Linked DNA regions of Homo sapiens. The protein of the gene in region 7 purifies or fractionates together with the protein of the main gene of each other region. This does not show direct contact. Each region holds a gene or a part of one and is shown on either strand. Other genes may lie near its edges.

Evidence for each region.
Region 1: the proteins of TPCN2 (region 7) and FGFR1 purify together in Homo sapiens (affinity purification with mass spectrometry; 2 studies listed by BioGRID and IntAct, with this or other methods). This does not show direct contact.
Region 2: the proteins of TPCN2 (region 7) and USP32 purify together in Homo sapiens (affinity purification with mass spectrometry; 2 studies listed by BioGRID and IntAct, with this or other methods). This does not show direct contact.
Region 3: the proteins of TPCN2 (region 7) and NDFIP1 purify together in Homo sapiens (affinity purification with mass spectrometry; 2 studies listed by BioGRID and IntAct, with this or other methods). This does not show direct contact.
Region 4: the proteins of TPCN2 (region 7) and PCDH9 purify together in Homo sapiens (affinity purification with mass spectrometry; 2 studies listed by BioGRID and IntAct, with this or other methods). This does not show direct contact.
Region 5: the proteins of TPCN2 (region 7) and WDR11 purify together in Homo sapiens (affinity purification with mass spectrometry; 2 studies listed by BioGRID and IntAct, with this or other methods). This does not show direct contact.
Region 6: the proteins of TPCN2 (region 7) and CSNK1G3 purify together in Homo sapiens (affinity purification with mass spectrometry; 2 studies listed by BioGRID and IntAct, with this or other methods). This does not show direct contact.

The regions. Positions count from the first base shown.
Region 1 is NC_000008.11:38,419,633-38,424,019, reverse strand, and holds part of FGFR1 (fibroblast growth factor receptor 1 isoform 1 precursor), read left to right. Parts: intron 1-2,078; coding exon 2,079-2,223; intron 2,224-4,284; coding exon 4,285-4,387. UniProt on the Homo sapiens protein: Tyrosine-protein kinase that acts as a cell-surface receptor for fibroblast growth factors and plays an essential role in the regulation of embryonic development, cell proliferation, differentiation and migration.
Region 2 is NC_000017.11:60,209,894-60,214,280, forward strand, and holds part of USP32 (ubiquitin carboxyl-terminal hydrolase 32), read right to left. Parts: intron 3,770-4,387; coding exon 3,688-3,769; intron 2,206-3,687; coding exon 2,131-2,205; intron 1,622-2,130; coding exon 1,483-1,621; intron 1,226-1,482; coding exon 1,120-1,225; intron 1-1,119. UniProt on the Homo sapiens protein: Deubiquitinase that can remove conjugated ubiquitin from target proteins, such as RAB7A and LAMTOR1.
Region 3 is NC_000005.10:142,125,351-142,129,737, reverse strand, and holds part of NDFIP1 (NEDD4 family-interacting protein 1), read right to left. Parts: intron 1-4,387. UniProt on the Homo sapiens protein: Activates HECT domain-containing E3 ubiquitin-protein ligases, including NEDD4 and ITCH, and consequently modulates the stability of their targets. As a result, controls many cellular processes.
Region 4 is NC_000013.11:66,901,558-66,905,944, forward strand, and holds part of PCDH9 (protocadherin-9 isoform 1 precursor), read right to left. Parts: intron 2,049-4,387; coding exon 1,947-2,048; intron 1-1,946.
Region 5 is NC_000010.11:120,864,593-120,868,979, reverse strand, and holds part of WDR11 (WD repeat-containing protein 11), read right to left. Parts: intron 3,934-4,387; coding exon 3,768-3,933; intron 3,351-3,767; coding exon 3,236-3,350; intron 2,412-3,235; coding exon 2,216-2,411; intron 1,915-2,215; coding exon 1,811-1,914; intron 1-1,810. UniProt on the Homo sapiens protein: Involved in the Hedgehog (Hh) signaling pathway, is essential for normal ciliogenesis.
Region 6 is NC_000005.10:123,613,177-123,615,362, reverse strand, and holds part of CSNK1G3 (casein kinase I isoform gamma-3), read right to left. Parts: intron 1,022-2,186; coding exon 967-1,021; 3' UTR 1-966. UniProt on the Homo sapiens protein: Serine/threonine-protein kinase. Casein kinases are operationally defined by their preferential utilization of acidic proteins such as caseins as substrates. It can phosphorylate a large number of proteins. Participates in Wnt signaling.
Region 7 is NC_000011.10:69,065,616-69,070,002, reverse strand, and holds part of TPCN2 (two pore channel protein 2), read right to left. Parts: intron 2,501-4,387; coding exon 2,398-2,500; intron 1-2,397. UniProt on the Homo sapiens protein: Intracellular channel initially characterized as a non-selective Ca(2+)-permeable channel activated by NAADP (nicotinic acid adenine dinucleotide phosphate), it is also a highly-selective Na(+) channel activated directly by PI(3,5)P2 (phosphatidylinositol 3,5-bisphosphate).

The DNA.
Region 1 (4,387 bases), on a different chromosome or scaffold from region 7:
ATTTTCTTCCTTTTTCCTCTCACTCCCAGACATTCATTGTCCCTGAATGCTCCATTAATCCAGGGAAGGTAATTGCCTAAATCTCCAGTGGATCTCGCAACAGGAAGGAACCAGAAGCTGGGAAAGTTGTTTACCTCTTTGTCCCAGAGTTAGACCTCATCCTCCCCTAGCTTAGCTGTCTCAGAGATATACTGGCCCTCCCTTCTCTTCTCTTTGCTGCTGGTGCTAAAACTGCTCTGTAGGTCATTGGCCACTGTCTCCACTCACAACCCCTGCTCCAGTCCTGGAGGGAGTGGGTTAAACACAAATAGAACATTCCATTTGAAGCAGTGATTCTTTTTTTTTTTTTTTTTTTTTAATCAAATGCTTTGGACTTTTGAAGTCCACTTGTTCTGTACTTGTAAAAGGGAAAGAAGGCCGGGCGCAGTGGCTCACGCCTGTAATCCCAGCACTTTAGATCACTTGAGGTCAGGAGTTTGAGACCAGCCCGGCCAACATGGTGAAACCCCATCTCTACTAAAAATACAAAAATTAGCTGTGCATAGTGGTTGGCACCTGTAGTCCCAGCTACTCAGGAGGCTGAGGCAAGCTAACTGCTTGAACCCAGAAGGCAGAGGTTGCAGTGAGCTGAGATCACGCCACTGCACTCCAGCCTGGGTGACAGAGTGAGTGAGACTCTGCGTTAAAAAAAAAAAAAAAAAAAAAAACTAAAAGGGAAAGGTAATAAATCTCACTTAACATCTCCCTTCGCTCCCTGGGCCTGCCTGAAAGTTACACGGGAGCAACGTGCGTGGCCACATCTCAGCTTTGCCCAACTGACTGGTGTGTCGTTGGTTTGTTCCAGCATTCGGGGATTAATAGCTCGGATGCGGAGGTGCTGACCCTGTTCAATGTGACAGAGGCCCAGAGCGGGGAGTATGTGTGTAAGGTTTCCAATTATATTGGTGAAGCTAACCAGTCTGCGTGGCTCACTGTCACCAGACCTGTGGCAAAAGGTAATGGGGAGATGGATGGGACCCTGTGCTGGGGATTTGATGTAGGCCCCAAGCTGCTGGGGCAGGCGGGGAAGCCAGTACTGGACTGTCCTTGCCACCCTACTGTATTTCTAGTGCCCAGAGCCATGGAAAAATACCCGGCCTGGGAGGCTGGTTTGGTTTGGTATTGTGTTGGTGTCTGTGGGTTCCCTCTCTGCCTTCTGTGTGTTCCTTGGCTTTGTGTGGATCCATGTGAGGACTCACGGGGACACGGTTTTGCTGTGTTACAAATGGTACTTCAGACTGAAGTTGTGAGTGAGTGGTGATTAAGAGAAGGGGCCATAGGCCAGGCACAGTGGCTCACGCCTGTCATCCCAGCACTTTGGGAGGCTGAGGTGGGAGGATCGCTTGAAGCCAGGAGTTTGAGACCAGCCTGGGCAACATAGCAAGACCCCATCTCTACAAATTAAATAAATTAGCCAAGTATGGTGGCGTGTGCCTGTAGTCCCAGCTAGTCTGAAGGCTGAGGCAGGAGGATTGCCTGAGCTTAGGTCGAGGCTGCAGTGAGCTATGTTTATGCCACTGCACCCCAGCCTGGGTTGACAGAATGGTACCCCATCTCTTAAAAAAGAGAGAGAAGGGGTTAGGCATTCCCTTGCATACTCGCATCTGCTGGCTGTGTATGCACATGTGCGTGTGTGTATGCGTGTGCATGTGTGTGTCTGCAGCCCCCGCCATCCCTCCTGTGTTCACCTTCTGGCTATCTTTACCTGAAACCAAACAGCCCCTGCCCGCCGGCCCCATTTCTCCATGCCGCTCACCGCCCGCATGCTCGGATGGGCCAGTGGCTGCCAGCATCTGGTGAAGGGTCGTAACCAGCCATCGTCTTCTCAGGTCTGCCGGAGTTCTTCCCTCAGGGTCTCACCCTCTTCCTCTAACAGGTTTTGCTGCCTGGTGGTTTTCGTTTGTTCCTTGTTGCAAAGAAGATGTCAGGGAGCATTTCTTCCTCTAGTCCCCCTTCTTTCTGTCTCCTTCCCTTGCTCTGCGTCTCTTAGAGGTCTCATGTCCTGTGCTTGTCCATTTTGCTTCCGTTGTCTCTTCTAGACTGCTGGAGTTAATACCACCGACAAAGAGATGGAGGTGCTTCACTTAAGAAATGTCTCCTTTGAGGACGCAGGGGAGTATACGTGCTTGGCGGGTAACTCTATCGGACTCTCCCATCACTCTGCATGGTTGACCGTTCTGGAAGGTACACACTGTAACTTCTCCTCTCGATGTCCTGCCCTCGCCACGGGCACGGGGGGAGCATGCATTTCCAGGCTTGGGGAGACACAGAGGCAGGAGAGCTGGAAGAATGGGCTCCTGCCTGCCTGGTGCCACATCCTGCCCCAGCTTTGAGGGCTGAATCCTCTCAGCTCAGAGAAGAGCTTCCCTAGTTTTGCAGGCGCACGGAGGCCTCCCACCCGTACACCTGCCTCTGCTCTCCCCCTGGCCATTGCAATGCATGCCCGGGATCTGGGTTTACCCTGCAGCCCGACTCCTCCAGGGCAGGCTCCTTCCGTCCTTGGGTCCAGCAGCCTCCCCCCTCCGCTGGGTACTGAGCATCTGAAAAGTCTCAGATAGGGCCCTACACCTCTTCTCCCTTCTCAAGTGCTCAGCCCAGGGGTGGGGCTTGCTGCTTGCAAAGAGCAGCCCACCCTCCTGTACTGCCATCCTATTGCCTTTGAAGAAGGAGGTCAGCCTGGACAGGTGAACTGAGTTGCCTTCAGAAAGGCCTGTCTCAGGCAGCCGCAGCAGGCTTCACGATGTCCATGTATCCTGTTTGCCTGCTGCCGTCTCTCCTCTCCCAAGAGGGGAGGTCTGCGTGTTGAGCCAGGGAGGAAGGAGCCTGCAGCCTGCTCAGGGTGGTGGCTGGTGACTGCGGGGCCAGGGCTTGCTGCTGTCTCTCGGAATGTCCTGCATGTGGGTCTGGCTGTTCCTGCTGGCACTGCCCTCTTCTCTCTCCCCTCCTTTCCCACTCTGCCCTGCTTGCCCGTCAGGGTCTCCGGATGCCCCTGCTGGAGGCAGAGAAGCGTTCTGTTTTTATCATCGTCCCTGTCTTGGTCCTGTCCGTGCTCCCCATGTGCTCCCAATCAGTTGTCTTCGTTCCTCAACATCAGGGAAAGAAAAAACAGCAACACTTCTCCCTGTCATCAGCTCTGCTGTCTCCTTGTCAGGCCTTGGGACGTTCTCTGGGCTCAGTCTAGGGTCGTGCCTCATGCCTCATGCCTCTCTGGGAAGGTTCCCAGGGGCGCCGCCTCCATGGTTGGCTGGTGGGTTTTAAAGGGGAAGGTTGGGAGGAGGCCTGTGGAAGGAGGAGGGCCGTCCACACCCGTGGGGCAAAGCGTGTTCCATGAAACCAGTGCTGTGCGTGCTGGGATGAAAGCCTCCCAGCCTCTCGTGCTGAAGGGAAAGGTGGACCGAACTGGCTTAGCTGCTGTGGCAATGGGGTGGGGGGTGAGTCCTAATCAGAAGGTGGGAGAAGAGAATAACAAAATGGAACTCCGCCCCCTGCCGCCACATTTCCTTAAGTTTTAGGAGTTGGGGCCTATGAGTAGAATTTGAAAGAACTACCAAAAAAGCTTATTTTTGGAAATTAAGTCAGCTTTGCCTGTGGTTTGGCTAGGAATAAATATTTACCTGTGTGCCCCTACAGAGATGACACAGACCCAAAGTGGGACATTGAGCAAGGCACAGGCTGGTTCCCCTCCTGTCCTCTGTCCTCATTCTGTGAGTGCCACCATCACCAGGTACTGTGGCCTGCAGAAATAAACGAGGCACCAACCCTGCCCTCAGGGACCCCGTGTCTTCTTAGGGACAGAGGACTCAGAAACATCTGTGTCCCCGCATGTTAAGTGCATGCACACAGTGCTGAGGCTTTGCAGAGAAGGGCCATGGCTCCCTGAGGAGACCAAGAAAGGCACATAGAAGTGACTTCTCAGCTGGCCCTTGCAGGATCCCTGGGTGCCTGTACCTCTCCAGTCCAGCTGAGCAAGGAGGCTCAGGAATTAATGAAGATGGGGCTTGTGTAGCACGATGGTTCTAGGCCATCCCTTTTCCATGGCTCAAGTCCATTGAAGGCAGCCTCCAAAATCAGGGGGTTGCCTGATCCTCCTAGTGCCACAATCCCAGTCCTAGCTAGAACTTGCCATGGTTCTTCTCCCTAAAAGTTCCCAGGGGACAGGAGACAGGTGTTGCTTTTCTAATGGAGCGGGACCTCGCATGGACGGGGCCCTCCAAGCCTGCTAACACCCTGTTCGCACTGACTCAGCCCTGGAAGAGAGGCCGGCAGTGATGACCTCGCCCCTGTACCTGGAGATCATCATCTATTGCACAGGGGCCTTCCTCATCTCCTGCATGGTGGGGTCGGTCAT
Region 2 (4,387 bases), on a different chromosome or scaffold from region 7:
TTTTTATATGCATATAAAATATGTATATTTTATAGGTACATAGTATATACATAACATATGCATAAAATAATGTGTATATAATAATACATAACATGTATAAAATAATATGTGTATACATTATTTTATATAATATAATGTTGTCTTCAACAATTACATTTTCTGGTCTTGTTGCATCCTAAATTTTATTAACTGCATTATATTATAGAATTATTTTGAGGATATAAATTAATTAGAATAGTGCCTGGCAAGAGGTAAGTAGTCAAATGTGTAGCTGTTATAGTTAATAATTTGTAATATAAAAAGCTTTTGCTTTGTATTTAAATAAAAATAATGAATAATCCTAACTTCACTAAAATCTACTACATCTGATATTAATATAAAACTTATATTCATTAGTTTCATTCATTCATCCTTCTACTTTTTTTTTTTCTTTTTGGAGACAGAGTCTTACTCTGTTGCCCAGGCTGGAGTACAGTGGTGCGATCTTGGCTCATTGCAAACACCACCTCCCAGGTTCAAGCGTTTCTCGTGCCTCAGCCTCCCAAGTAGCTGGGATTACAAGCATGCACCACTATGCCCGGCTAATTTTTTTTAGTAGAGACAGGGTTTCGCCATCTTGTCCAGGCTGGTCTTGAACTCCTGGCCTCAAGTGATCCACCCACCTCGGCCTCCCAAAGTGCTGAGATTACAGGCGTGAGCCCCTGCGCCCAGCCTACTTCTTTGTATTCTACAGATAGAACTATCTTAGTTACGTTGAAAATGGATTGGATTGGATGTAATTAATAAGACTCTGAGGTCCACCTTGCAGTTAGAATACTGCTAATAGTGAAGTATTACCAAAAAAGGTTTACTCTTCATATAAGATGTTTGACAAATTAGTAAAATGAATGACATCCCGAATTTAGAGTGTACCTTTGGTCTTTATCCTACCCACTACATATACAGTAGTAATTTTGCATATATTTAAACAAGCAAAAGAATTTGACCTTTTGTTTATACCAAGTGAAGGATCCAAAAACATTTATTAAGTTAAAAGGCTAAACACAAAAAACAAGCAGAGAAAAATGATTAAACAACTATTAGGAATTAAATACTTTTATATTATTTTAACCTGCTTACCCGAAGCTTTAATGGGGCAACATTCTTCTGAGTTCCACTCCAAAGTTCCTGCACTAAATCACCATAGCATTTAGCCATATGCCCCTTCATACCAATGGGATTTGTCCTAGAAGTTTGAGAGGAAAATTTGTTGCCAAAGATTCTCATAAATCACAATCATGTGGGCGCAAAAATGCCTAGCATCTCACATCAAAATATCTTTTCTTTTTGAAACAAGAGATGTATTCCTTGGCCTATTTCATATTAAATAGGGCAAATAAGATAAAATCTTTCTCCCACAGGGTGAAAAAAGAGGAAATTTAGGTGATATTGGGTTTATATCAAAGTCACAGGTTAAGAGGCCAGTGACTCCAGAAAGATTACCTGTTGAGTTCATAAAGATGTCTCCCTGAGATAAAATACTGTGTCAGTGGCTGTGTGTTACTAACACACTGGATGCTTGAGTTCATGAAGCATGTGTTTCCCAGATTGCTTAGACCTGTGGCTCCCTTTTCTGTGGGAACTGGAACAAACAATATGAGAACCAAAGCTTAGCTGTAGTAATATGCCATGGCACAAACAGTTACTTATATTCAATGAAAAGGTTTTTTATAACTCTCATAATCAGCTAAATGGTGCTAATAATTCTCTAGCAGGTCTCTGAAATGCTAGAGAAGGCTTTTCATGGAGTGTCTGGCAACAGTGATGATCCATGCTCATTTGTAACCCAGAAGCAGCAATTATTCTTTTTAATTGCTATGATTTTTCAAAATAATTCAAACAATTCTTCTTCTAGTATGTCTTTTAAAACATATAAATTATTTAATTGCAGAGTTAGAAAGAAATTTAGAAAATAATTTGATGGTGGGTTTGCCAACATCAAATGCTGCTTCAGGAAAAAAGAAAAAGAAGAAGGCCCTAATTACTTTTGAACTAGAAAACCAAAAGTTGTTAGCACTTTAACAGTTGAGAGAAGAAAAAAAAAGAATACATTTAAAATAATCTCTTTAAAAAATAATACTGGAGACTTACCCTTGTGTCTATCTATTTTACTACTATTTGCTATAAAAGACATCTCCTCAGGCCAACTCATATCTTTGTTGCGAACTGGAAGGACAGATAGGAATGTGTTAATTTCTTATCTATCTAATTTATACCCATTCGATTGCTTTTTTTTTTTAAAGACATCTTATTCCTAAATCAGAAGTTTTAAAATCTAGTTAATTTTAGTACATACATTGCTTAACGACGAGGTTATATTCTGAGAAATGCATCATTAGGTGATTTTGTCTTTGTGTGAACATCACAGAGTGTACCTACACAAACCTAGGCTATGTATGGTATAGGCTGTCGCTCCTTGGCTACAAACCTGTACAGTATGTTACTGCATTGAATACTGTAGGCAAGTGTAACACAATGGTAAGTATTTGTGTATCTAAACATGTTAGAACATAGAAAAGGCACAACTAAAAATACAGTATTATAATCTTATGGGACCACTGCTGTATACAGGTCTTTTGTTGACAAACATCTTTTTGCAGCACATGCCTGTAATTGGCTCTAAAACCATTCCTACTCTTCATATTGAGGACTTTAAAGTCACTTGGTTTGAATAATCTTATCCCTCAATTACCTACTTGAAGTAAAATTATACTCAACCATCTACAGAAGTAATTAAAGTTCAGAAACAATGGAATTTCTTATACTTAAAACATTAGAAATTACAATTCTTTCTTAAATTGTAACAACTGTCAGAGTAATTTATTCCTTTTTTTTTTTTTGAGACAGTCTGGCTTTGTCCCCCCAGGTTGGAGTGCAGTGATGTGATCTTGAGTCACTGCAACCTCCGCCTCCTGGGCTTGACTGATTCTCGTGCCTCAGCTTCCTGAGTAGCTGGGACTACAGGCACGTGCCACCACACCCAGCTAATTTTTGTATTTTTAGCAGAGACAGATTTCACCATGTTGTCCAGGCTGGTCTGGAACTCCTGACCTCAAGTGATCCACCCATCTCAGCCTCCCAAAGTGCTGGGATTACAGGCGTGAGCCACTGCGCCCGGCCTATTCATTTTAATACAAAGGCAGCTAACAATGTTGCCACAAAACTTGATGGGAAAAGATACACTTAAAAAGTTTTTAATGGCATGTGCATGCCAGTGTGTAAATCTATGAATATACAAATAGCTCTGTCAGTGAGTAGCCAATGTTGGTGACTAATGAAAGCCTGTGCTACTAACTATGCAAGAAAGTTGTTCTTTTTACTCAAACTCAAAGCAGCAACTTGAAAATTTTAAGGAACTATAAATGTGTAAACTGAATTCACTTGTTTTTTATCTACCATTCCCATTCTTTGTCAGTCAATGACTAAAAACAGAATATTTTCCCTTTAAAGCAATCTAAATTGTATGGTAGGATTACATAAGAGTTCAAAGGGTTTTCTTTTTCTTTTTTTTCCAAAGGGTTTCTTTATCATAAAAACATAATAATCAAATAATAGTTGTTTTGGAGAAAATTATAAAATGGGTTATTAGTAACTCTTTAAATTCTTCCCCTTGAAAATTTAATATAGATGCATGCTTCCATCTTGTACCTTCAATTACCAGGTGTTGTTCATCCTGGATTTTCAAATATTCCAATTTATGATCCTCATCATCCAGAAGAGTAAGGTAGTTCTGTGTAAGGAGGAGGAAATGTTTTTGTTATTTGGTTAGTAAACTTGAAACAAATACAGAGATAAAAATGAGTAACAATTAAAAAAACAACTTCTTTGTAGTTATATAACATATCACAAATATCTGGCCTACTATAGTTGTTCATAAATATTTATAACTTAGGTGGCAGTATGACAGAAAGACAATGTGTACTTCATAAGCGTTATCTTTCTCTTTTTTAAAATTTCAATAGGTTTTTGGGGAACAGGTGGTGTTTGGTTACATGAATACGTTTTGTTTTTTGTTTTTTTTTTTTTTAAAGATGGAGTCTGGCTCTGTTGCCCAGGCTGGAGTATAGTGGCACTATCTTGGCTCACTGCAACCTCTGCCTCTGGGTTCAAGCAATTCTCCTGCCTCAGCCTTCTGAGTAGCTGGGACTACAGGCTCCCACCGCCATGCCCAGCTAATTTTTGTATTTTTAGTAGAGACAGGGTTTCACCACGTTGGCCAGGCTGGTCTCAAACTCCTGACCTCTGGTGCTCCAGCCACCTCGGCCTCCCAAAGTGATGGGATTACAGGCGTGAGCCACTGTGCTCGGCCACACCATTAGTTTATAATGTAACATATAATCTTTGTAAC
Region 3 (4,387 bases), on a different chromosome or scaffold from region 7:
CCAGGCTCGTCTCAAACTCCCGACCTCAGGTGATATGCCTGCCTTAGCCTCCCAAAGTGCTGGAATTACAGGCGTGAGCCATTGTGCCCGGCCACAATCCATTAAATTTTAACTGATCATCTCAATCTCCACTCACTATGCTGTTCAAAACCAGATGTCAATAAATTTTTCTGACTAATACTACAAAAGCTTCAATTTCAAATGAATTCTTGTGTCAAATTCTCATCAGCATCTACCATCTGGGTACATTTTTTCGAATCCTAGTAATCTAATGTTAAACTTAAGGTACTCCCAAAATAGCTGTATTATAACCTAAGATAATTTTTCCTTTTAAACAAAGACATGTGGCCAAAATAGGTGCAGTAAAGCCAAATGCTCCTGGGACACCGAACTAGGAATTACTTAAATAGAGTTCTTGGGACCATGGTTCACCTAAAATACTGGTTTTAACATTATTTGAAGCTCTTGGCAAGGTATTCTTAGCCTCCTCACACCTAACCACTCTTGTGCTGTGGGAAGGTCACCAAAAGAAGCAGAAGAGTCAGCAGCAAGAACAAAGGCAAATACAGACTTTTCGAATATGTTCCCTTAATATACTGTAGCCAGTAATGAACTTCATTTAAACCTAGCTTGGTTTATACTTAACCCGTTTTATATTTCCTGAGCTTGGTGTCAAAGTAATCACGTTACCCCTGCATAATTTAGGTCTCAGAAAGGAAGCATGACAATTCTAAGAAATACAGAAATCCAAAGAACAAAGAGGTTAAGAGGTCTTCTATGACAATATTTATAAGATAGGCTGCCTGTCTCCTGGAAACTTGGAAATGTTAAATTTGATCATCCCCCACCATAGTAAAAGATGACAGTGCAAATAAATTCCAGCCTTCTTAGAACCACCAATTTTCACTTTGGTAAGGAAAAAAACACTTCCAGGTGAAGAGTTTGCTCCACTAAAATTCACTACTTTAGAATAGTGTACTTTTTTCAATTGAAAAATAAAAACAATTTAAAACACCATTATGACTATGGTATAATCCCAAGACCTCACTGTACAGGCTTCTCACTCTGGCTTATTTCTATAATGCTGGTGATAAGATTAGGCTCCATCAAGAAAGCTGTTTAAAACAAAACACTGCAATGTAGGGGGATCGCGGGGAGAGGCAATCACCTTCAAAAAGAGTAAGCACTTAGTGCCTGCCATCTGCATGCATAATAACTTGCTGAACAATGGAATCCTTAAATATACATCTTTTTACACTTCAGGGGCAACAAGTCAGGCATTCACTAACAAGTGGAGGAACCATGTGCGCTAGAACTAGAGTGTGCTATAAAATTGATTACTTGGTTCCAAAATTTATTTTTAAGATTCCCCTTTTCCACCCCTGGGAACCCTTCTGTGCAGCCTCCCTGCCATGTCCCTGGAGCTCAGGGATCTTCGGGCTCTTTCCTGACACTTTCTGAAAGAATACGCGGCATTGTCACGTTTGGGTTAGAGTTGGAAAGATGCTCAGTCTCTTCCATCAACTGGGTCAGTGGAAGCCCGAGTCCAATTTAACTGTCACAGAATCTGGGTTGTAGGGGATACTCAGAGAGACAGATCTGAAAACTGGGACAGATCTGGGAACTTCTGCTCTCAGTGCACAGAGATGTTGGGCAAGGGTAGGGGGGATATCCTTTGAGTGACTGTGATAGATAATAAATAGCTGTTGGACACTGGATTTTTTTTCCTGTCATATAATTTCTGACCAATTTTACTAAACTTCAAATATGATTTATTTTTTTGAGACAGAATCTCACTCTGTCACCCAGGCTGGAGTGCAGTGGTACCATCTTGGCTCACTGCAACCTCTGCCTCCTGGGTTCAAGTGATTCTTCCGCCTCAGCCTCCCAAGTAGTTGGGATTACAGGCATGCACCACCATACCTGGCTAATTTTTGTATTTTTAGTAGAGATGGGGTTGTGCCATGTTGGCCAGGTTGGTACCAAACTCCTGACCTCAAGTGATCCGCCTGCCTCAGCCTCCCAAAGCGCTGGGATTATAGGCGTGAGCCACCATACCCGGCTGAAATATGATTTAAATGGCATTTTTTCCAAATACAGCTATACAATTACCTACACAGGCCATACAAAGTAGAGTTTAATACAGAACTACCTATAACTACCTATGCCTCCATCGCTAAGAAATAAATAATCCAATCACCTGAGAATTCAGATGACCTTTCACTTTCTCACACCCAGAGTGTGCCATTACTCTTTTCCTGATTACCTTTGCTCCCTTCTATGTGCTGAGCAGACTAGAATGGCTCCCCAGAAGAACCCTAAAACTCTTCCTACTTCAGATATGTCACAATCTGCCATGGTGCCTTTGGCCTTGATGACCTTCAATTTTAAGAAAACATTTATTTACAAATAGGTGCTACTAAGGTTTTGTTCTCAAGTCACACCTGTAATCCCAGCACTTTGGGAGGCTGAGGTGGGCGGATCACTTGAGGTCAGGAGTTTGAGACCAGCCTGGCCAACATGGTAAAATCTCGTCTCTACTAAAAATACAAAAATCAACCAGGTGTGGTGGCATGCACCTGTAGTCCCAACTACTCGGGAGGCTTAGGCACGAGAATCACTTGATCCGGGGAGGTGGAGGTTACAGTAAGCTGAGATCAAGCCACTGCACTTCAGCCTGGGCGACAAAGTGAGATTCTGTCTCAAAAATAAATAAATAAATAAAATAAAATAGAGCGTTTTTTTTTCCCTCCTTATCACCTTCCTCTGTATCTAGGTCCTATTGTTATTAAAAATAAATATGACATTTTTATGAATCTCCAACACAGAAATCATATATAGTTCTAATTCTAATAGAAACAAACTTGAATTTAACACGTTTAAGACATTATACCCTACAGATTTAAACTATTATTTGAGTTCCCAATCAGCAAGAAAGCTTCACCACCGCCCTCCTCACTAAGCAGTTCTAAAATGAGTTGTTTTTAAGCAATAGCAGAGCTGGGGCTAGGATTAGGGCTAAGCAAGGGGCAACATTTATAACTGTAGCAAATGGCAGGACCTAAAGGCACTTAAAAGTCATTCTTGGATTATCTATATTTACTAAGAATGAGAGAACAACAAAAAACCCTACACTAAACAAAACCCATAAATCCTTATATATGAGAAAAGGTATCAACATACACCTCAGAATTCATACAAACAAACAAACAAAGCACGTGAAAAATAATGCTGAAGTATCCAGTAAGTCCATAAAGTTGCAAGTATTTTCACTACTTAATTTTTTCTTGGTTTGGTCATATTTAAACAGCAAGAAAATTCTTGTAAGTTTCAAGTCCCTTCTTTAAGTTATTAAAAATAAATATCAGAAAATTCTGGGTCAATGCTTGAACTCTAGTTTTGAATGTTATTTACTACTTCTATCTTAGAGTTAATTGCTAAAACTTTTACCTTAAAATGCAATTTTTAAAGCTCTCATTACCAACCCACTACTTCTGCATAGTCCCTAAATCCTACCAAAACAAGGCAGTATAATTACAAAAAGTAAACAAGCACATTTCTTTTGGTAAACAGCTGAGTATGCTATTTTACTGCTGTTCAGAAATAATCATTAAGTTTGTGTGGCCTGTACATTTACTTTATATATTGTAAATATAAACTCTGTTATTCTAACATCACCAAATTATTTACATTCAAGAAAAATTCTCTATCTAATTGTTATTAATTAGGGGAAGATATTTTAAATAATTCTGACAAGATAAGAGAGACTAAACAATAAAAAGGCAACCCAATTATAAAATGGGCAAATGATTTGAACAGACATTTCTCCAAAGAAGATATACAAAAGGCCAGTAGACACAAAATGCTCAACATCATTAAGTCAGCAGGAAAACGCAAATCAAAACCAAGACTCAATACCACTTCATGCTTACTAGGATGGCTATAATAAAAAAGACAGACAATAACAAGTGCTGAGTATGTGGAGAAACGGGAACTCTAATACACTGCTGGTGGGAATGTAAAATGGTACAGCTGCTGTGGAAAAGTTTGGCAGTTCCTCAAAATAAGTTAAACATAGGCTGAAAACACAGTGGCTCAGCCTGCAATCCCAGCACTTTGGGAGGCTGAGGCAGGAGGATCACTTGAGGCCAGGAGTCTGAGACCAGCCTGGGCAACACAGCAAGATCCTGTCTCTACTAAAAATTTAAAAATTAGCCAGGCATGGCGGCACACCTGTGATCCAGCTACTCAAGACGCTGAGACAGGAGGATCACTTTAGCCAAGGAGTTCAAGGCTGCAGTGAGTCCAGTCTAGTCTGTTGCTCAGTCTGAGCAACAGAGTGAGATCCTGTCTCAAACAAAAACAGCAACACAGATTTATATTAACA
Region 4 (4,387 bases), on a different chromosome or scaffold from region 7:
TTTATAAATAAACTATAGTAGATTTACTTTCACTGTTCTTTCACAAATGGACTAATAATATAAATAAACATCATAACTCTAGATGTCATTTTTTTTCTTCAAATTCCCTAGACCTTTAGTCAAACCCTGTGCAAGCTGTCTTCCTGTGCTTCGGACCTTATAAAATATCTAAGGGAGAAAAAAGTATGATTTATAGAAAATTATTTGAATTATGTCTCATTTATATTCTCTACGAAAAATACGAAAATCTCCAATAAATCATCTCACCACCTTTGGTAATCAAAGGGATTTTCTGAGGAATATGGTTTCTGAGGAGTATGGTTAAGTCAATAAACACAAACATAAAATGTTATAAAAATAAATATAATTCTTAGAAATCTGAAATCCACTTGGATCTTAATGACTTGCACAACATCCTGGGTAGGGTTTTGTACTATTTACCTTAATCTTTACTTATGAGAAAAAATTTTTCTCTGCCATCCAATTAGAACTATTGTGTTATTGTTGGTAATTAATGGGAACAATTGTATTATCTTAGATAGTTGAAACATACACAGTGAAGAGGAAAAAATCAAAGGGTTGGAAACTATGGTTCTTCTCTCAATGTTCAAGAGATTTAGGCTTTGGATAAAAAAAGAAAGAAAAATATAAAAAAGTATATATGCTGAAGTTTAGAAAATCATTTCTAAGTATTTAGACCCACACAAAGAAAAAGAAATAGAATAAAAATATGCAGAGAATTAGGGGATAGAGCTGTTCGAAATATTGCTCAATCCTCTTTCAACTTCCACTAATGTTTTATCTAAAAAGAAGTTGCTTTCTATATTAAGTTTATATTAATCAAAGTAGTTTCTTCAATATACATTACCAGTGGGATTTTTGAAAATAATAGATTCCTTTAGATGGCAAAAGCAATAATTATTACAATTTTTTTTTTACTAATCATGATTAAGAAAAGGTTTGAAGGGAATGGAGGGGACCTACGTTCTGTAAGAAAACAGAATACACACACAGGCACACACACATACGCATACACATGCATTACCTCTCTTTCTACAGTCTATATGTTACAGCTGTAAAAAAATACGTGAAACAGTATGTATGTTTTAATATTAGTTAACTATTAAAACATAATTCTTTAAAAATGGGAATCTTCTTCCATTTCACAACAATGCAAAAATAGTTAACACGACTGAACTCTACACTTAAAAACGGCTCAGATAGTAAGTTGTATGTTATGTGTTTTTTTACCATGACTTAAAAAAAAATACATGAAAGATAGTAGATTTCTATACCCAGCCATACTGGAATAATTGGCACTGGAAAAACCCTTCCAACATAAAAGAATAAGAAAAGAACAACTATGGATCTTCTACCTTTTAATGTGGATGAACTAACTTTTTTAAAAAAGAAAGTAATGTCTTTCAAGTTCAAAAATACAGGGAAATAAAAGATCAAACTGATATAAAGTAGTAAAAAAAAAGGAAAACTTCATTAAAATTCAAATTTAACTAGTCATATTAAGCAGCAATGTCTTTCTCATTTTCCTCAGTATGGGAGATGAATCGAATTAACCTTTCAAAATAGTTGTGCCTTTCTTTTAGTTCAATTAATAAATATGAATCAATCCAGAACATCTAGCTTTAAAAGAAAGTTGCTTATTACTTTCTTTAAAAATAGGTAAAAATCAGTACTTTTCATTCCATGTTACTAACATTATGTTTGAGAGTTGGATCATTACTCAACAGAAAAAAAAAGATATATATCGCTGGATTTTTGTTCTAAAATTATTTACTTAAAATTATTTTCAAAAACATTAGTATAAAAATGTGACCACAGAAGAGATGGGCAAAGACAATAATACTAATTAAGATAGAGTATTTAAAATCATGAGGAAAATGAAAATTTATCAGTACTAACATGTTCTCTATAGATATATGGCATACCTCGTAATGGCTTTCTTCATTCTCCTGAATGTGGAAACCCGTGGAGCTGGGACATTTCTGAGGAGTGACAGGAATATTGTCACTTTTGCTGTGTGAGTTACACTGAAAGAGATTACCAAATAATTGTGACAAACTACTCCACATTTAGAGTGTCCATTGAGAGACATGGCTGTTTGCTATGAGCCTAATAAAGGAATACCACTTGAGCTAACAAGGGTCCACACCCAGAGATACATGCATTAAGATTGAGTCTTTACCATAAAGATTTTTTAATTGTCCCAGGATAAACAAATTGTTAAAACACTTTTACTAAAACTAAAGAAATATAAAATTTAGTAATTTTACTTTTACCTTTTTTAGGCAATATTTATTTATTACATTTATGACTTTGGTAGCTAAAAGTTATACGGTGCTATTTGGGTGAGATATTATTTAAGAGTTTGATATATATTATACACATATTAGCCTGTGACATGGATATTATTAACTACCTCCACTTAAGGAAGAGGAGACTGAAGCATAATTCCTCCCCCAACAAAGCTGTGCTGTTGCCCAGCCTTTTGGGAACCATTCCCCATATCCTTAGCTACCACATGAACTACCTTTATAAGTGATACATTTGAAATAGATAAAACTGAAAAAAACAGAAGTGTAGTGTCTTAAAATACTAGTTGACTTATTTTTCTACTAAATAGAAAGCATTTTTAAAAAACAGGTTATCTAAAATAATTTACCTGGAAATTGACATGAATTATAGAACATAAGATATTACATTATGGCTTGGCCTTTCTCTGTGAACATATTAAAATGACAGTTTTCCATATTCCTCACACAACTTTTTCATGTGAAAATAAGACATTTTCCACTTCCTGTTTTCTTACTTCTTTTCTAAATCTTTTATTAGACTCAAGGCAAGCAATATTTGTAAGTATTGCTGTCTGGCCATTTATTAAACATAACTTTGTAGGTTTTAAGGTTTCTACTTTGATAAAAAGATATTGTTGTGCCCCCAGAAAAGGTTCATCATTGATATATACCTTTTCTTCTTAAATAAAACTATAATATATGCATCGATTTCATTACATTACAAGCAAAGAGACTATTCTTTTCAAAACTAGTATGCCATGTTTCCTATTCATCAATGAAATGCTACCTTTACTATCTCAAAGTAAAATCTGTTAGAAAATTACTGTTAGACATTTTTAAAAGCAAATGTGTTTTAGAATTTTAATATATTGTGTTCACTCTATTTTCATTTCAAGACCATCATTTTATATATTTAAATATATGTTAAAGCACTGTCATTACATTTTGAAGATATAAATTATCTCATTTATTTTTATTTGTTTAAAATAAATAGCTATGTGACAACTAAGAAGGCATGACTTTAAATCCATATATCCATCACTATAAGCCTTTTAGCATGAAAAAATATTTTATATCTGTTCTCTCTCTACAATTTAATTTTAACTCTATTCAAAACTTACCTCCTCTAGCAACTCTTTTCATGCGTCATTCAACAAATGGTGATTGCCATTTTAACCTCTGTTTCTAAGTAACTTTCATGTGTAATTTGTAAAATGTTCCCTTGTAATGTTAATTATTTGAATGTTCCTAAGTTTTTTGTCTGAACAAATTCACTGTTAGCAACAAAGGCTTCACAGCAGCTTTTTTGGCATTCAAGAAAAAAAAAAGCATAGACCTTAAAACAGTTATTTTCATCTGTGATGTCCATAGACATTTTAATTATTCAATTCCTATCCCTAGCCTCTCCACATATCTATTCATGCTGATTAATCTTTTTAAAAGGTTTCATGTATCATATAGTTTTTCTCCTAAGAAACATTTCCTAAATTTCTCTGGCCCAGCAGTGAGTCTCACCCTGACTGTATATTAGAATCACCTGGGGAGATTTTTAAAAATGTCAATGACTGAGTCCCACCTCACATCAGTTAAATTGAAGCTCAGACATAAATATTTTTAAAATATTCAGACAATTCTAATGTGTAGCCAGAGTTTAGAATCCTTGGGTTAAGGTTAAAACTTCCTTGTCTAGCCCTCAGGAAGCTAGAGTAAATTTTGGCCTCACTCCGATTTCAATCTGATATCTTGCTCCATAGAATTTTTTCTTCCTTTTTAAAATTTAACCCATCATATTGTTTTTTTCCCCCATGGATATATCATAAAAGTGTCTGAACCTGAAAAAAAAATCCTATATTTGTATAATACTTTATGCTTTAAATACAAGAACTTATGTATTATCTACAAGGAACCTCTGTAGACTGGTAGAAAACATAATCCATCCTATAACAGATTAGGAAGACACAGGTTCAGGTATATTCAGTGCCATTTGCTGAAGGATTTGCCCTGTAAAAGCAGGACAAGTGTTCACTCTATTTTGGGCAATTTCTACTGTACCATATCTCCCTTAATGGGTTCAT
Region 5 (4,387 bases), on a different chromosome or scaffold from region 7:
GAGTAGACAAGGTGAATTAACTCAAAAAATTGTGTTACTGATAAAATAAATTTTGCAAAACATGTGTCCAGGCTTCCTCATATGGATTTATGTCTGGTAGAATAGATAGTGGAGAGAAATAATTTTAGATATAATAGTAAGTATCACTGAACAAAAGGATTTCATAACTGGCAGAAATCGTGAAAAAACTGAGGCCTAGAGATGAATGATGGTCTTACCCAAGATGACAGTGGAGCTGTCAGGACTGGAGGCCATTGCTAAGGAGCAGGCTCTGGAGCCAGGATTACCCGGGTCACACTTGGGCTCTTCCATTGTGTGACTGTGTGACTGTGTGGTTTAAAGTTTTAATCTCTCTGGGCCTCAGTTCTCATATGTATCAAATGGAGATAATATTACTTACATTGCAAAGCTGTACCAAGGTAATATGTAGAATATTTAGCACAGCACTTAACACAGTATGAAGTACCCAATAAATGTGATCTAATTAATGTAATTAATAATGTAATGCTTTTTTTTTGTTTTTGAGATCGAGTCTCGCTCTGTTGCCCAGGTTGGAGTGCAGTGGTGCAATCTCGGCTCACTGCAACCTCCACCGCCTCCCAGGTTCAAGCGATTCTCCTGCCTCAGCCCCCTAAGTAGCTGGGACCACAAGCACATGCCACTGCACCTGGCTAATTCTTATATTTTTAGTAGAGACAGGGTTTCACTATGTTGGCCAGGCTGGTCTCGAACTCCTGACCTCAAGTGATCCTCCCGCCTCGGCCTCCAAAAGTGTTGGGATTACAGGCGTGAGTCACTGCGCCTGGCCAATGCTCTTTCTAGTGCATCACTTATTTAGCGTTTCAACAACAACAAAAAAACCCTCCTAAATAATATCGTTTTCAATTATATTATGGTAGAATAAATAATAAAACAGAAAATCCTTTATAAACCATAGCCACAACTGTAAAAAAATTAGATGTCCAAATTGCTTGGCATATTTACAAAGCCTTATAATTTCAAGTAGCATAAAATTTGAAATCACAAACTCTCATTCTTCCTTTAATACATACTGGCCTCATAATTAAATAACTTTGAACACTTTATCTCCAAAAATGATTTTTTGAAAGAATCCCCAACATAAAAATAATTCATGTCAAAAAGTTAAAATAATCTTTTCTAATACTGCTCAGTTACTTTATTCCTTCAGTAAATATTTACTACAAAACAGGCATGCACAAGGTACTGTGCTGAGTGCTGGGAAAGACAAAATAGAATCAAACACTGTACCACCCTTGTGATGCTTACAATTGATGAGATGAAACAGAAGAAAAAAACCCACAATTAAAATATGCTGATAACTGTTAGGAAAAACAAAAGAAGAGCATTTAAATTAGACTTGGGAGATTAAAGAAAACAACATCTGAGTTGAATTTTGAATTAGGAGTAGCAGACAGAAAGGAAGCATGTACTTCATTCCAAGCTGAGGAACCAGCAAACAGCAAGGCCCTGAGTTGGCATGGCATAGCTCAGCATCGGCTCTAGGTCCAAAATCCAGATGCCTAATGTCATTGCTTTCATTTACATCAGTCTCTCACGAATGAACGTTTTCTATTTCTAACAACTATAATGCAAACCCGTGCTACTTCAGGCACTTTTCTACCTAAGTATTTTAAACCCCTCTGATTTATTTAGGAAAGAATGATTCCATGTTCTAGTTTTCTCAAGTATTAACTTTTTTGACTTTAAAATAATTACAAGTGAGTGATTCTATTAATTTTGCCCTTCAGAAAGAATACTTAACATGGAGTTAGAGGGGAAAAAAGCTTACCAATCATGTTATCTAAGGAAAGGTCTGGGAGTTTATTCTGTAGCACTCCTACAGGAATTCCACAGAAAGACACTGGTGAATATAAAGGTGACACACCAGAACTACTGCAAAGACATAATAATTAGAAGGTTTTACATACTTAAAATCTGCATTACGTATTAGGAATTCAAAGTATTAAGTCCAGATTATGGCATTCTATCTATTTTTATATTATTCATTCATCTTACCCATAGGTGAAATAGCTCTAGCAGATTTACATAATTCCCTAATAATCTAAAGCCTTAATTATTACCTTAAAAATATTTTTATAGAAAACCAGCCCTCCTATTTTTATGATTATGGAAATTTTTTATAAAAGGAAACAGGAAACAAAAAACAAAACCATGATCCTGTTGATTCATTTACCTGTTCCGTGAATTTCGATTACAAACTGCAGACTTGAGTTCCCATATCATGACCCTGCCATCACTCACTACGAGGGCGGCTGCATTCTCATTGACAGGACAGCACACCATACTGAAGGGACGGACGGTTTTTGTCACCCTGATTGCATCACACTGGCTTCGTAAATCATAGGTAAGCTCCTGAACTGGATCTGGATCTTCACATAAAATTGTTTTAAATATCAGAAAGCAGCCATATCGATACCACTACTGTTTGTTTCAATTTAAATAAAACCTCAACTAAATTTGGGCATCACTCCTTCATGAATGCAATGTCAAGCATGGCTTCACTTTTTACAATTACTACTAAATTTTTTCCAAATATAATTTACTTAATGACTGTACTAAGTTTAATTTCCAAAATAACAACTATAATCAAGATATCTTTTTTCAATATTTTAAAATAAAGACGATACTTTGAAAAAGGATCAACAGTGATATATAATTAATGAATAAATTTCCATCATAATTTGTAGTAGTCTATAAGCCTGAAAATAACTGTACTTTCCAAAAGATGTGAAAATCACTTTGATCTTTACACAGTATATAATTTCACAAAAACATTATTTCCATTCTCCAAGATAAGACTGACTTGACAACTGAGACTTAATAACCTCTGTCACTTTACAATGGAAGTTCTTACAGCCAACAAGTCAAGGGGGTATAATAATAAAGGCACACAAGGTTGGACTTGTACTGAAAAAAAAAAAAAATTCCAAAAAATAATATCTACTTGGCTCATGGATATGATCAAGAAACACAAAATTTTACTCTCTTTGATGTATACAGGAGGTGCACTGTTTTAACATCAAGAGATTAATCTTGGGCTTATACTTTTTATGCCTCTTATTATAACCATATTTTAAACTTCCTCAAAGCAAGGAGTATCATTAACTATATACCTTGGCTGGTATTTGCCACATCAAGCTTTATAAAATAATTTTGAAGAAAAATATAACATTATTGTGAGACAGAAACTCACCTGGTTCCTCATTTGAAGTGGTAAAAATGTTATTATAAGATCTTCGAACACGTAAAGTTATACAACCATTTTCATGTAGACAAAATAAACCATCACGCTGAAAGCAGGGTATTACCTTTAAATAGATGATATATTTATTTTTTAAAACACAATAGATTAATAAAGTATATACTGTGAAACTCAAACTCATATTTAGATAATATGGGCAAAAGAAAAAAAAATAGACAAATCCCAAACTTTAAAACTAAATGTACATTTAAAATATCCATTTATAATCCTAAAATAATTTGTCTTTACCCATGTGACTTAAATAGTTCAATAAATATCTCAGGATCAGTCACAATTTCTAGGGTAAATCAAACCAATCAAAAGTGCAGACAAAAAAAACAATCTAAAATAGTGTTGCTAGTCTTTTGATAAATTGAAAAGAGAAAGTGGAGAACTGAAGACAAGACTTATGCAAGATTATGGCCTTCTTTTAATATAACATTCTTAATAATTTTGGGGAATATAATTTATGAATTGTAGATACCTGTAAAAATGGAACTCCTGTGCGTTCTATTGCAATCACACCCACCGTCTGATTCACCTCAAGGTCAAGGATTAAAATCTCTCGAGGATAGAGCAACAACATGTGATTCCTTTTTGAAGGCAGGTATGCCAACTGAAGGCAATCATTGAGAGTTATGAATTCAGCACTGAAAAAAGTAAACATTCACTTGGGTCAAAGACTTCATTTATATCAGACCTAATAAAAGATTTAATTTTGTACTTTACACATAAAAATTGACAATAAAAATGTACAACTATTCCCTGAAGTGACCAACATGGGTTGGCATCCAAAACTTAGATCTCTACTATGTACCAAAATCCAAATGCTAATAATATTGTATAGGATGGGTAGAAATGTCAGTGTTTCTAAGTTTTTGAAATATTAAGTAGTAGAATATTAAGTTATTAATATTACACAAGACATGGTAAATGATAATATAATAATAGCTGGCATGCATAAGACAGTTTTATTTTACTTTTACTTTGTCATTAAAAGTACTAGGCAAACTGTTAAAATCAAGACTCAGGATGAAAAACATCAACATTTAGGGTAATTAGGGCCCCTGGACCAGGAGTTACTGGACTATCTGTATGGCTTTG
Region 6 (2,186 bases), on a different chromosome or scaffold from region 7:
ACATCCAAAGTTTTCTGCTTAAGGGAGAATGTAATCATTCAGCAGTAAGTTTCGGTGAGATTTCTTTAGGCTTCCACCTTATACACTGCAACAAGGTTCACATTTACTACCTCTCCTTAGTGTATTTCTTTATAACTCCAACATACATCACTTTTTAAAGTATTCATTTCTTGCTGTCTAACATACATTATTATTTGGAAGCATAAAGTTACATTGTACAAATATTTTGCATTTTTAAAAATAAGCGCTTTTGCCACTTCTGCAACACAGTACTTCACATAGTGATGCAACAAAAGCGGAGCACATATTTACCACACTCCTTAAGATTCATTTTACCACCACCATCTGCCGAACCCATATTGCTTTTTCCTCAGTACCTCTGGGCAGTGACTGTACCATGATTTCACGGAGAGAATGTTAATATGACTTATGAATAACAGTACCATCAGTAATACTGAAATCAATGCAGATGTCACAAAATATGAACTTCTCAAGGAATAACTTCTTTTAAATATTTGGGCAACTCTGTTTTCTCTGTTGTATTATCCACTGAGAAAAGAAAATTCCTGTTTGATTATGCTCTTACAGAAGTTATAAAAAACCAGATTAGGTATATAACTGGTTGACACTTAAGATACTGTACTGCTTTCTACAACAGAAGAACTTCTGGAAAATGTTCTATGGAACTATATTCATTGATACCACCTCATTGGTCCATTCCATTCACTGATGGGCAAAGCACTCATGTTTTGACAAAACTTTAAAGCTTCCATAAAGGTTAAATTAGAGAAAAAAAAAAAAAGAAAAAGAATGTAAGACAACCACAAAATGAAGTATGAAAGTATGACATTTTTGTTTCTAAGAGTGAGTCCTTGAAAATATACGTGGTCACTACAGAGATGATTTTAATCACAAGACAGCAGATGAACATGTAAGTAACTCCCCAGGATCTGTCTGTGTCCAGAGTCATTTGTGGCGCTGTATGGTTTTCCTTTTCCTTCGTTTGAAAAAACAGCAGCACCTGCAGATGAGGGAAACACTCTTTTTATTTTAAAAGCACTAAAATATCACAAAGTTGACTGTATCACTTTAACTTAAATGATCATAAAAAGCAACAGGCTAGTGCAAGATAAACAGTGATTACACCAATGAAGCATACGTATTAGTGAAAATATGGCAGAGCTATTACTATTATGTTTCATTCACATGCCTTTTAAGAATAGCAAGACATTCTATGCAACATAAAAAGGAGCCATTAAATTCAAAAGGTTTTTCACTAAGAGTAATTAAGAATTTCATTCTATGCATTCTCACCCTTTCTCCCTGATATTTATATGTGACTGTTGAAGCCATTAGGAAGGCAATAATGATCCTAACATTGGGGAGTTTATTCTCACCAATAATCAGTTTAGACTCCAAAAATAAAAAGACACTCCAATATACACTAGTCAACATTTTCCATCATATTAAAAAAGTGAAAGACAGAAAATACATTATATAGAATACCAAGACTGGCAATTTTGAATTCTTTAAGGGTTAAAGAAGGTCAAGCTTATTGAAAGTTTAGTTAAGGTAAAAACTATGCTTAATATTTAAAGTAGCACAATTGAGGTGATTCCATTTTACAAGTCAAAACTGTATATGCAAAAAAATATAATACTGACTTTTATTTCTAGGTGAAAAAAAATCTTGGCTGGGCACAGTGGCTCATGCCTGTAATCCCAGCACTTTGAGAGGCCGAGGCAGGAGGATTGCTTGAGCTCAGGAGTTTAAGAATTCAAGACCAGCCTGGACAATACAGCAAGACCCCATCTCTAAATATCTCTCTCTCTCTAACTACATATACACATACACAAATATCTCTAAATATATATATACACACATACATATATAAATGTACACACATATATTATATTATACATACATACGCACACACACACACACACACACATGCACTGGACATGGTGGCACCCGCCTGTTACCCCATCTCCTTGAGAGGCTGAGGCAGGAGGAATGTTTGATCTATGATTGTGCCACTGAACCCCAGTCTGTGTGACAGGGCAAGACCCTGTCTCTAAAAGAGGAGATGAACACATCAAGGCTGCTGTGGGAAAATGCTGTGGTCTGGTATGAACTGAAAAAATCACTGATCTGCTCCCACCAAAAAAAAAAAAGAAAAAAATTAA
Region 7 (4,387 bases):
AGGAAAAAAAAGAAAGGAGGTCTCCTGGGAGGGCTGAAAGGCCTTCCTGTCCAAATTCGATCTCTTGCCTCTGCTCGCACACCCTCCAGGACGGGGAACTCCCTACCTATCAAGGATGTCCCTCTGCACACAGAGCTGAAACCTCCCTGCAGCCCTCCCCACAGTCAGTCCTGCTCCCCCTGCAGTCACTTCCTAGGACTCAGACGGTCCTGCTCCCAGTGCGGTCACTTCCTAGGACTCAGACGGTCCTGCTCCCAGTGCGGTCACTTCCTAGGACTCAGACGGTCCTGCTCCCAGTGCGGTCACTTCCTAGGACTCAGACGGTCCTGCTCCCACTGCGGTCACTTCCTAGGACTCAGACGGTCCTGCTCCCACTGCGGTCACTTCCTAGGACTCAGACGGTCCTGCTCCCAGTGCGGTCACTTCCTAGGACTCAGACGGTCCTGCTCCCAGTGCGGTCACTTCCTAGGACTCAGACGGTCCTGCTCCCACTGCGGTAACTTCCTAGGACTCAGACGGTCCTGCTCCCAGTGCGGTCACTTCCTAGGACTCAGACGGTCCTGCTCCCACTGCGGTCACTTCCTAGGACTCAGACGGTCCTGCTCCCACTGCGGTCACTTCCTAGGACTCAGACGGCCCTGCTCCCACTGCGGTAACTTCCTAGGACTCAGATGGTCCTGCTCCCACTGCGGTCACTTCCTAGGACTCAGACGGTCCTGCTCCCAGTGCGGTCACTTCCTAGGACTCAGACGGTCCTGCTCCCACTGCGGTCACTTCCTAGGACTCAGACGGTCCTGCTCCCCCTGTGTCACTTGCTAGGACTCAGACAGTCCTGCTCCCACTGCGGTCACTTCCTAGGACTCAGACAGTCCTGCTCCCACTGCGGTCACTTCCTAGGACTCAGATAGTCCTGCTCCCCCTGTGGTCACTTCCTAGGACTCAGACAGTCCTGCTCCCACTGCGGTCACTTCCTAGGACTCAGACAGTCCTGCTCCCACTGCGGTCACTTCCTAGGACTCAGACAGTCCTGCTCCCAGTGCGGTAACTTCCTAGGACTCAGACGGTCCTGCTCCCAGTGCGGTCACTTCCTAGGACTCAGACGGTCCTGCTCCCAGTGCGGTCACTTCCTAGGACTCAGACGGTCCTGCTCCCAGTGCGGTCACTTCCTAGGACTCAGACGGTCCTGCTCCCACTGCGGTCACTTCCTAGGACTCAGACGGTCCTGCTCCCCCTGTGGTCACTTCCTAGGACTCAGACGGTCCTGCTCCCACTGCGGTCACTTCCTAGGACTCAGACGGTCCTGCTCCCACTGCGGTCACTTCCTAGGACTCAGACGGTCCTGTTCCCACTGCGGTCACTTCCTAGGACTCAGACGGTCCTGCTCCCACTGCGGTCACTTCCTAGGACTCAGACGGTCCTGCTCCCACTGCGGTCACTTCCTAGGACTCAGACGGTCCTGCTCCCAGTGCGGTCACTTCCTAGGACTCAGACGGTCCTGCTCCCACTGCGGTCACTTCCTAGGACTCAGACGGTCCTGCTCCCACTGCGGTCACTTCCTAGGACTCAGACGGTCCTGCTCCCAGTGCGGTCACTTCCTAGGACTCAGACGGTCCTGCTCCCACTGCGGTCACTTCCTAGGACTCAGACGGTCCTGCTCCCAGTGCGGTCACTTCCTAGGACTCAGACGGCCCTGCTCCCAGTGCGGTCACTTCCTAGGACTCAGACGGTCCTGCTCCCACTGCGGTCACTTCCTAGGACTCAGAGGACACAAGAGACAGCACTCAGGGTCCGCAAGATGAAAGGCACCAGCCAGGGTGGCTGGGCCACAGCCAAGCCCAGGACCGTGGCCTCCATCCTGGCCACACCTGCACCTGAGCAGTGGAGGCCCCATGAGCATCACACAGGGTGAGCGTCGTGGCCAGTAAGACCCTTGGCCCTCACATGCTGCTGCCCAGTGGCTCCCACAGCTGAACCTCGGCAGCAACCGCAGCGTGGATGTGTGGAGCTCCAGCAGGACGGCACCAGGAGACCCCTCTGACCACTGCCATCATCGCCCTATGAAGAACACCAGCCACTTTCAGCTTCTCAGAGGAGTGAGTAGACAAGGAGGAAGAGGAGATGAAAAGAAAAAGGGAGGAGGGAGTGAGAAAGCAAAGGAATGAGACAGAAAAGGAAAGAAGGAAAGAGAAGGGACAAGAGAGAGGGAGAAGAAAACCAAGACAAAAAAAGAAGAGATAGGAAAAGAAGGGGAGGAAGGAAAATGTCACCCTTTCTTCTCCACTTATCGAAAAAAAGGCCTCAGAAACTCCCACTGGGTTCTAAGGCTCAGCAGCCCAAACCGGCCCCCCAGTGCTGGGCTCACCGACCCCCACGGTCCCTCCCTGGCCCTGCACGCACCATCGGGGTTGTTGGCCGTGGTCAGCAGCACCAGGAGGGAAGTCAGAGACTCAGGCAGGTTCTGGAAGTAGGTCAGCCTCTCCCTGTCCTGCCCATCATCCTGCTAAGAGCAGAAGCGGCAGCTCCAGGGCACCACTGGGTCCCCACCCCACAGGCTGAGCTCCAGGCCCCGGACCCAACCGGCTGGAACCATCCACCCGCCGCCCAGCCTGCATCTCCCTGTGGCCTCCCAGCAGGCTGAGCTCATGGCCAGACAGGACCAAACTCAGGATCTCCGGGCGCAAGAGTGGGCACCCAGGGAGACCGCTCACCCGCATGGACACGGTGCCTGGAAGCAGGCCGGCTCAGAACCACAGCAAAAAGCCCTCAGCCAGCCTAGTGACCTCCCTCAGGCCACCTCGCCTGCTCGCAGCCGACTCTGCCATGCACTGTGCAAGCAGTGAGGCTACGGGGCAGAGGCAGGAGGGGCAGGAGGAGCAGAGGGGCCCAGGCTGCCAGGGTGAGATAGGTTGGACCCTTCGTGAAGCCTGCTCTAGAGGCTGTGTGTCAGGGCCCACGGCCGCCCATAGCCACCCACGGGACTCAGTGGCACTGTGCTCGTGGCTGTGGCGAATCACAGCCATTGGTAAGGGGGCATCCACACCGGAGTCCCTATCCTCTCTCCCTCCTGAGAGGGGTCCCAGCCACAAAACACAGCTGGCACATGCAGTGTTTCTGCTCGGAAAGCAACTCTGCTTGAGACTCCGGGCCCGGGGCTCTCACTGGGGCCAGGCTCATGGGCACCCTCTGCCTACCAAGCCTCCAGACCCCCCAGCTGGAAGATGGGTGGTTCCCGCAAACCAGACTGGTTGTATGAACTGTGGGGGCAGGTGGCACAGCGGGACTTGGCACACAAAGCAACCTCCTCTCTTAGGGATCGTTTCAAAGCCACAATCCCAGCTGCTGGCCAAGGGGCAACCCCGCAGGCAGGCCCTGGCATGGAGGCACCTGTGATGGCCACTCTCTGTCGCACAGGCCGCCCTTCCTGCCTCACAGCCGCATCAATAGCACTGAGGCCTCCAAGGCCTCACCTATAAAATGGCACTGTCCCCTCGTCTGTCCAGTCAGGGGCTCCCAAGGACACGTGAGCTAATTGGTGAAGACTCCACAGTCTGCTGGGGGAGGGGGCACAGGGGCCACTGAGAGGAAGTTAGAAGGCAGGGAGCGCTGTCAGGCACAGAGCCACGGGTAGGGACAGGCTCCCCTGCTGGGGAGAGCTAGGCGGGCCCCTCCTGGGCCTCAGCCCAAGCCAGAGTGGAGGAGCAGAGCAAGGCCTTCCGAGGCCTGGAGGGCAGGCTGGCCTCCAGCAGTCACCGGGGACGGCAGGACCACAGCACTGGGTCCAGGCCTCCCGGGCATCCCCCGTCCCACCCTCACCCAGTCAAACCACCACGTTCCCAAATGTAAAGCAACCCACCGAGCGCCCATGGAGCAAGGTTTAGGGCCAGGCTTCGAGCCAGCTGAGGCACACCACCTAACAGACGCTGAGGTCCATAGAGCCGACAGAACTCCCTAAGGCAGGTGGCCCTGCCCCGGCCCATCTCCCACCCCACACTGTGTACCTCCCAGCAGGCCTCACGCTCCTCCTCTACAATTCAGCTCCAGACCCTAGGCATGACTTCCCGTACCTCCTGCCCAGCCCAAGCCACAGCTCTGCAGGGACACAGAGGAGCCCTGGGCTCCTGCCCAACCTGCCACAACCAGCGACGATGGACCCGAGCCAGCCCACAGCCCCGACCTGAGAAACATCTGTAAAATGGGACAGCACCATCACGGCTGCTGGGAGACCACACACCCCAACACCAACCCTGGTTCTTGGAAATCAATCCAGGTTGGAGCTTCACAACGAGCAAAGCCAGCAGAGGACAAGCAGGCTGGCTCTGGACCGCACTCACAAAGGTAGCTAAAGCAAGGCGGCCGCTGCACCCAGAAGCACAGCCTGGCTACCGCC